2 linked regions of the Homo sapiens genome follow. The protein of the gene in region 2 purifies or fractionates together with the protein of the main gene of each other region. This does not show direct contact. Each region holds a gene or a part of one and is shown on either strand. Other genes may lie near its edges.

The links.
Region 1: the proteins of HELZ (region 2) and ARID3B purify together in Homo sapiens (affinity purification with mass spectrometry, with the first as the bait; one large-scale study listed by BioGRID). This does not show direct contact.

The regions. Positions count from the first base shown.
Region 1 is NC_000015.10:74,572,220-74,575,719, forward strand, and holds part of ARID3B (AT-rich interactive domain-containing protein 3B), read left to right. Parts: intron 1-642; coding exon 643-714; intron 715-912; coding exon 913-985; intron 986-3,500. UniProt on the Homo sapiens protein: Transcription factor which may be involved in neuroblastoma growth and malignant transformation. Favors nuclear targeting of ARID3A.
Region 2 is NC_000017.11:67,105,697-67,109,196, forward strand, and holds part of HELZ (probable helicase with zinc finger domain), read right to left. Parts: coding exon 3,420-3,500; intron 3,031-3,419; coding exon 2,796-3,030; intron 1,990-2,795; coding exon 1,473-1,989; intron 1-1,472. UniProt on the Homo sapiens protein: May act as a helicase that plays a role in RNA metabolism in multiple tissues and organs within the developing embryo.

The sequences.
Region 1 (3,500 bases), on a different chromosome or scaffold from region 2:
AATTAAGTTGGGCTTAGATTTTCACTGTTTCTCTAATAAAAATGAACTCTCGCCCTAGTGGCACAGAGTCTGTACCTTGGAAACAATCTCAGGCCATGGTGGCCCTCATATCACCATGAGTTCTTGCCATGCGGCTTAGGGTTTTGAATGGTGAGGCTTGACTAAGAGACCAACTTCAGGATGTATGTCCTGCTCGCTTTGACCCTTATCACTTACAGTGTTGTATAGGAAACCAGGCAAGGTGTCTTCCCAGTCTGCAGGAAAGTGGTGCATCTCAGAGTGATGGCTTCTGGCGATCAGCCGGGAATGAGCCCCTTCTAAGCAACGTGGGCCTTTGTGTCCTCCTCTTCCAGGATTATCAAGTATAAATGACACCCACGACACCTACCCTTCTCCAACAAATGGAGATGATTCTTCCACCCGATTCCCTCTTTATTTTGGAACCAAATCAAAAGCCAAAAAAAAAAAAGATGTCCCTGTAAGGGTGGCAGAATTAGTCTTCTGAGTTGTCTTTTATAGTATGAGTGAGGATAGCACAATTGCTAAGCATCTTCATCTTTGCCCTAAATGATTGCCTTGCCCTCTGTCCTAACTCTTTCTCTTCCTTTGCCCCTCTCAACTTTGTGTTTTGTTCCCTTTTAGAATGGTGGTTTGGCCTGGAGTGATGATGCAGATGGAGGCCGGGGAAGAGAGATCTCTCGAGATTTTGCCAAGGTCTGTAATACTTCCTTTGTGATACAGATAGGGGCAGTTCTGCAGTGGCTTGTTACAGCTGATTCCCAAGAAATAAGGACCAAGGTAGCCAGTGAGTTGCATTTGTAGTGATTCAGATGGTCATAGTATATCTGGTATAAGACTTCAGCAAGATGGAATTTTTCACTGTGTGTTTTTCTTGGGGGATTGGGATTGCAGCTGTATGAACTGGACGGTGATCCTGAAAGGAAAGAGTTCCTGGATGACCTCTTCGTCTTTATGCAGAAGAGGGGTGAGTGTGCATCTACTCATCATTCCAATTCAGGGAATACTGATAGAGTGCCTACTGTGTGCTAGTCACTGTTAGACATCCTGGCCCACTAATCCTCATCCAGGAGGAGAAGAGGCATTTACTGCCAGTTGGTTCTGGATTTAGCCAATTAACCGATAGCCAGATTGAAGAGGACAGAGAAGGTGTTGGCACAAAGTAGATGGAATGATCGTCCACTTTTGGCCCTGCCTGATTTTGTCTCTTCTTCCAATTGACTGGTCTCTGGAGTCACTTCAAATTCAAATATGCCTTTTTTAAGCCTTAAAGCTACCCTGGACTTCACTTAATCTAGCATGTGGGCCTTCTTGTTGGCATATCTAGTCTCATGGAGAAAGGTAAGTGAAAGAAAAGAGGCCCCTCAGGATATTTTGGAAGGGTCTGAAATGATCCATGGAAAGAAAAGGCCAACACTTTCTTCTTACCCATTGGCTTTCGATGTTTGTATTTGCTGGCTTGGTTAGAACATTCCTGCAGTTTAATAGTCAGGTACATAGGCATCTGCCTTTTTTTTTTTTTGAGATGGAGTCTCGCTCTGTTGCCCAGGCTGGAGTGCCATGGTGTGATCTCAGCTCACTGCAACCTCTGCCTCCCGTGTTCAGGCAATTCTCATGCCTCAGCCTCCCAAGTAGCTGGGACTACAGGCGCGTACCACCACACCTGGCTAATTTTTGTATTTCTTTTTTCAGTAGAGTTGGGGTTTCACCATGTTGGCCAGGCTGGTCTCAAAATCCAGACCTCAAGTGATCCACCTGCCTTGACCTCCCAAAGTACTGGGATTACAGGCATGAGCCACCGCGCCCAGCCGGCATCTGCTTTATAATGCACCCTCCCAATTCTCTTTCCTTCTCTCCTCACTCTGCACATCCCCAAGAGCCATCTTCACTGTAGACTATGGTGTGACTGAGTTTAGAGCTGAGTGACTCAACTTCCTGGCTTTGTATTCAGTCATAGCAATGGGTTCACCAGCCAGGTCAGCCCTCAGAACACATGGCCAGCACCCCAGCCTCTCTAGGAGAAGGCCTTCAGCAACCTGTGTGGCTCCACCTTCGTCACCCTCAGGACAAAACCATAGGAGAGAGCTACTCCCAGTAGCCTGCTCCCAGCATCCTGTTATAGCTGATCATGCATCCCTTGGTGCCTGTGTCAACAACTTTATTGAGACCTAAGAATGAAATCTTCCTCTTTATCCTGGGCCAAGCTGTAATGGCAGCCCCCAGCAGCTAAATATTCTAAGTTAACTTCTCTCTCTCTCTATTTCCCTCCTTCCTCCCTACTCCTTTACCTTTGGCAGCCTTATTGCCTTCTTGGTGTAGCCTGCCTGTTACTGTTGGTTTGCGTAAAAAAGGCAATCGAAAGTTTTGAATCTTGGTTTTCCCCAGTCTCTAAGCCCATCAAAGCAATCTGAGCAGCCTTAATTAGTTTGCTCCTCCAGCTGTTACCTGGAACTGCATGTGTCAGTAAAAAACAATATAATCCTGAGGCTGGGCGCGGTGGCTCCTGCCTGTAATCCCAGCACTTTGGGAGGCCAAGGTGGGTGGATCAGGATGTCAAGAGGTCGAGACCATCCTGGCCAACATGGTGAAACCCGTCTCTACTAAAAATACAAAAATTAGCTGGGCATGGTAGCGCGTGCCTGTAGTTCCAGCTACTCAGGAGGCTGAGGCAGGAGAATTGCTTGAACTCGGGAGATGGAGGTTGCAGTGAGCCAAGATTTCACCACTGCCCTCCATCCTGGCGACAGAGCGAGACTCCATCTCAAAAAAAAAAAAAAAAAAAGAATATAATCCTGAAAGATAATGTGACTGGCAGCAATGAACCTCCCCGTTTGCCCTGAGAGAGAAATCCACTTAATACTTTGGTCTCCCCTTCCAATTACCTTTTAATTATTTACAAGCTCCACAAGCCCAGCTGGTGCAAACCCAGGAGCTGATCCTGTCTCAAAGGGGCTGCCATAGCAATATAGATTTTAATCAGCAGTGGAGCTCCACTGCTTTATTTTCCACTTTATTGTTTTTCTCCCTTCCCTGAAGGATTTTTAAAGGAAAATGGAAGTGAGATCAGCCAAGCCGATTGTGAAGATCAGTAATTGTTTACTACTATATGTCCCCACTAGACTAGGAGCTCCTCAAGGAGGGCCACTTTGTCATTCTTTCATGTCCCCAGTGCTAGCACAGGGCCAGGCAGGAAGGTGCTCAGGACATGTTTGCTGTGTGAGCAGTCTTGTTGGTTTTCCTGGCTCAGATTGCAACATGCAGGGTATTCAAGCTGCCTTGAGGTTTGGGTGCATCTGTGTCCTTCAGCCAGCTGCCCCGTAATTGAGAGTCAGCAGTAGAGAACAGTCTTTGCTGCATATCCTGCTGTTCTGTGGCAACTGGGACTGCCAGATTGCCATCTAGTATATTTCTGAGTGAACCCAAAGCAGGAGTGAGTGACTCCCTTTGATAATGTCACTTTATGATTCTTCAGGTCCTGAGTA
Region 2 (3,500 bases):
CTGAAAGACTGTCAGATGTGTGCCAAATTTTTGTAAAGTATGGTTCCAAAATTCTAGATCCTCACAATACATATATGTAGATACCAATTCATCTTTATTGTGCTTCTAACTTACTTTAAGAGCCTAAAATCACAGTAAGTTGTTTTAATGACAGCTATACAGAATGAGCCAATCAATGAATACTGGGACAATTTGAACAGACTGCCTCTAAATCCCTACAAATAAGACATACAGCTTTCCCTATGAATCTTGACTTTTAATTAGCATCTATAGCAGGCAACTTGTAAAATGTGAATCAATTATTTCTAATGGCCTTTAGATATCATTCTGAAACTGCCAAAATGAAGCTAATATCAAAAAAGTATTTTTCATATATCAAAATTAGAAATCTTTATCCTGATTTAAGATGTCTCTGTCTGATATGACTACAACCGGCTTTACACATTTTTATCTTTAATCACTGCAAATTTAATGGGATCAGCTAGACATTTTTGTAGCCTACACCACATGGTACTGCTTTGGAAGTTTTATAACCTGGAATTACTAAGTTTTTCATAGGAAAAAAAAGTCCATAAAGATGCTCTTTAGAAATATCTAAGTATTTTACTTTATTTATTTATTTTTTTTTTTGAGACAGAGTCTTGCTCTGTCGCCCACGCTGGAGTGCAGTGGCATATCTTGGCTCACTGCAAGCTCAGCCTCCCGGGTTCACGCCATTCTCCTGCCTCAGCCTCCCGAGTAGCTGGGACTACAGGCGCCCGCCACCACGCCCAGCTAATTTTTTCTATTTTTAGTAGAGACGGGGTTTCACCGTGTTAGCCAGGATGGTCTCGATCTCCTGACCTCGTGATCTGCCCGCCTCGGCCTCCCCAAGTGCTGGGATTACAAGCGTGAGCCACTGCACCCGGCAGAAATATCTAAGTATTTTAAGATAAAATTCAGTTTAACTTAAAATGCTTAGTTTAGCACAGTCAATTTTATGTTAAAAATCTGCAAATTCTGATATTTGGGAATCAGAGTCCCTGGGTCTAACAAAGCACCAGGCTGAGTGGCAGGAGAAGGAGCACAGCACTTGGAGCTGGCACTGGCTGAAAAGCCAGCATCTTTGGAAAGTTCTCATTAACAAATTTATAATTAACACATGTAACTTAAAGCGAAAAGAAGAATCACTAAAAGCCATTTCCTCAGATTAAAAAAAGACAAAGCTCCTTGAATAGAGTCCTCAGATATTCAATATTTTCTTTAAACAGCAATAAAAGACTTTTAAGGGGCTTCATGTTTCAACAAAAGTGTCCACTTTACAAAACCTGAAATACAATAGGAGGGTGGCAATTAAAATAATTCCCAAGAAAGGATTATCTTTAATACGCTGTTAAATTCAATAAGATCTGTGCCTTCCTATTATCAAATCAATAAATACTGATATTTTTCACAATCAGCTAATAACAAAAGGAAAATAAGAAGACATTTACCTCTTCTAAGCTAGGGAGCGAAGAAGAAGATACTGTTCGAGATGACAATGGGTGAAATGGCTCTTGACCAATAGCATGTTGATGATTCTGTATTTGTACAAAAGGGTTCTGCGGTGGCCTGTGAGGCAATGGAGGTAGGCCATAGGGAAAACCTGGCCCCATTAGGTGATTCTGTTGCAAGTTAGCAAAAGTCCATGCTCCATCAGGTGCCAGGTATTTCAAGGGAGGAGGGGCAAGGTGTTCAGATGGCAACGAGAAAGGTGAGTTGAATATCTGGGGTGGGAGGCGCTGTGGAAATGCTGGGTTGCTGGCTACTTCAATGTCTCTGCTGTTATCATTAAAGTTAGAAAAGTGGCTACTGTGGTCTGTACTGGATGGGGGAGATGGGACTGCTGGTGGGCTTCTACTCTGTACTTGTCTATATTGCAAAAGTCTTGATTGAGGTGGTGGCATTTCAGCTAGTTCCCGTGTTTCACTTTGATCACGATGAGACAGTTCTCTGATTAAGTCTTGAAACCTACATGAAAACAATAAAATATGAGGAGAAAACAAAAGGCTCCATCACATTAAGGAAAGCTTAGTCAACTACACATGTATTTTCAACAAACAAAATCATAGTACTAATAACTAGAACTGGCATTAATTCATCTCAGATGTAAGCATTAACACTCAATAGATGCTGAGGTGAAGAAATTAAATATGCTCAATTACCTGATTTCTTTCTGTTCCCATTGTATTAAAAACATCTGTCCTTGTCTCTATACAGCTTTGACAACTGGAAGTTATAAAAGGTCACCATGATGGTGGACCTTATTCAGAAGGGATTAGGAAACACTTCAGAGCATTCATGTGACACTGGCCACAAAAACAAGCTTAGAGTTAGGACCAAATACTCATATGTAGCTGGAATTATAGGAATGTAGAATTCTGTGCCACCATAAAAATAATTAATGATATAATTTTTAGCTTTTAACCACGAATTTACTCCTGTCTTTATTCATTCTTTGCAAGTATTACTACTAAATAAAAAAAGCTGCTCACAGTGATGGTATGTTTCTCTCGCAGAAAAGACCACAAAGTAAGGGAACAAGTTAATTTCCAACCCATAGTAGATCATCCATGCCTAAATTTGTAGAAGAGTTACTTCTAAATGAGTTTTCTGTATTTTAGAGTCAACAAGAGAACTGTGTAGCGTGTGCTTGGAAGGCCAGCATCCAATTTCTCTGAGGCAATATTCCAGCTTGAAGCTAAAAGGACTACAGTCAAAAAAGAGAACAGTGAGGGGGTCGCATTCCAGGGGCTATTTTCAGTCCGCTGGAATACCTTGAGTATGTGGTCTCCACTTCATCTTCGGCACTGCTGGTGAGCTTCCAGTCTGCCCTCACTGGCGGCTGATGTAATCCCAGGGGCGGCTGAGGAAGATGCTGGAGGTGAGGATGGTGATGGTGTGGGTATGGAGCGCTGCCCTGACTGAGAAAGGCATGATGCTCGCTCCACTGCTGGAACCGTGCCTGCTGCTGCCTTAATGTTTCCAGAGCGACACTCCCATGTATACGATCTGCAAAAATATTTGTGAAAAATTTTTTATGAATTTGGGGTTTCAAGTTCATTATTTAAAGTTTTTTACTAACATATTTTCTCCACAAAGACAAAGGACGTAGCTACAAATTTGGTTTTGGTAAGAAGTAAATGTTTTCTAAATTTGCCAGAAATCAGTTATGGTGATGATGATGACAACTCTTCCTCACTTACATAATGATGATCCTGACATCCACTGGATACTATCATACAGCATTTAGAACTAGTTTCTGATTATCACACTAAATGGGGGGGTTTTGCTAGCATTATTTGAAGAAACAATTCAATCTTAACCCAAAATGATATTATACAGTCCAAGTCATGTTAAGTAATCTCTGAATTTTCACATCTGGCAGTAATAGAACTTACCTAAAGCCTCCCCTATAGGTAATCCCGAGGGGTTCTCATCAATGAAGCTATTCAGATGTGAAGGAAGAATGGGGCCGGGTT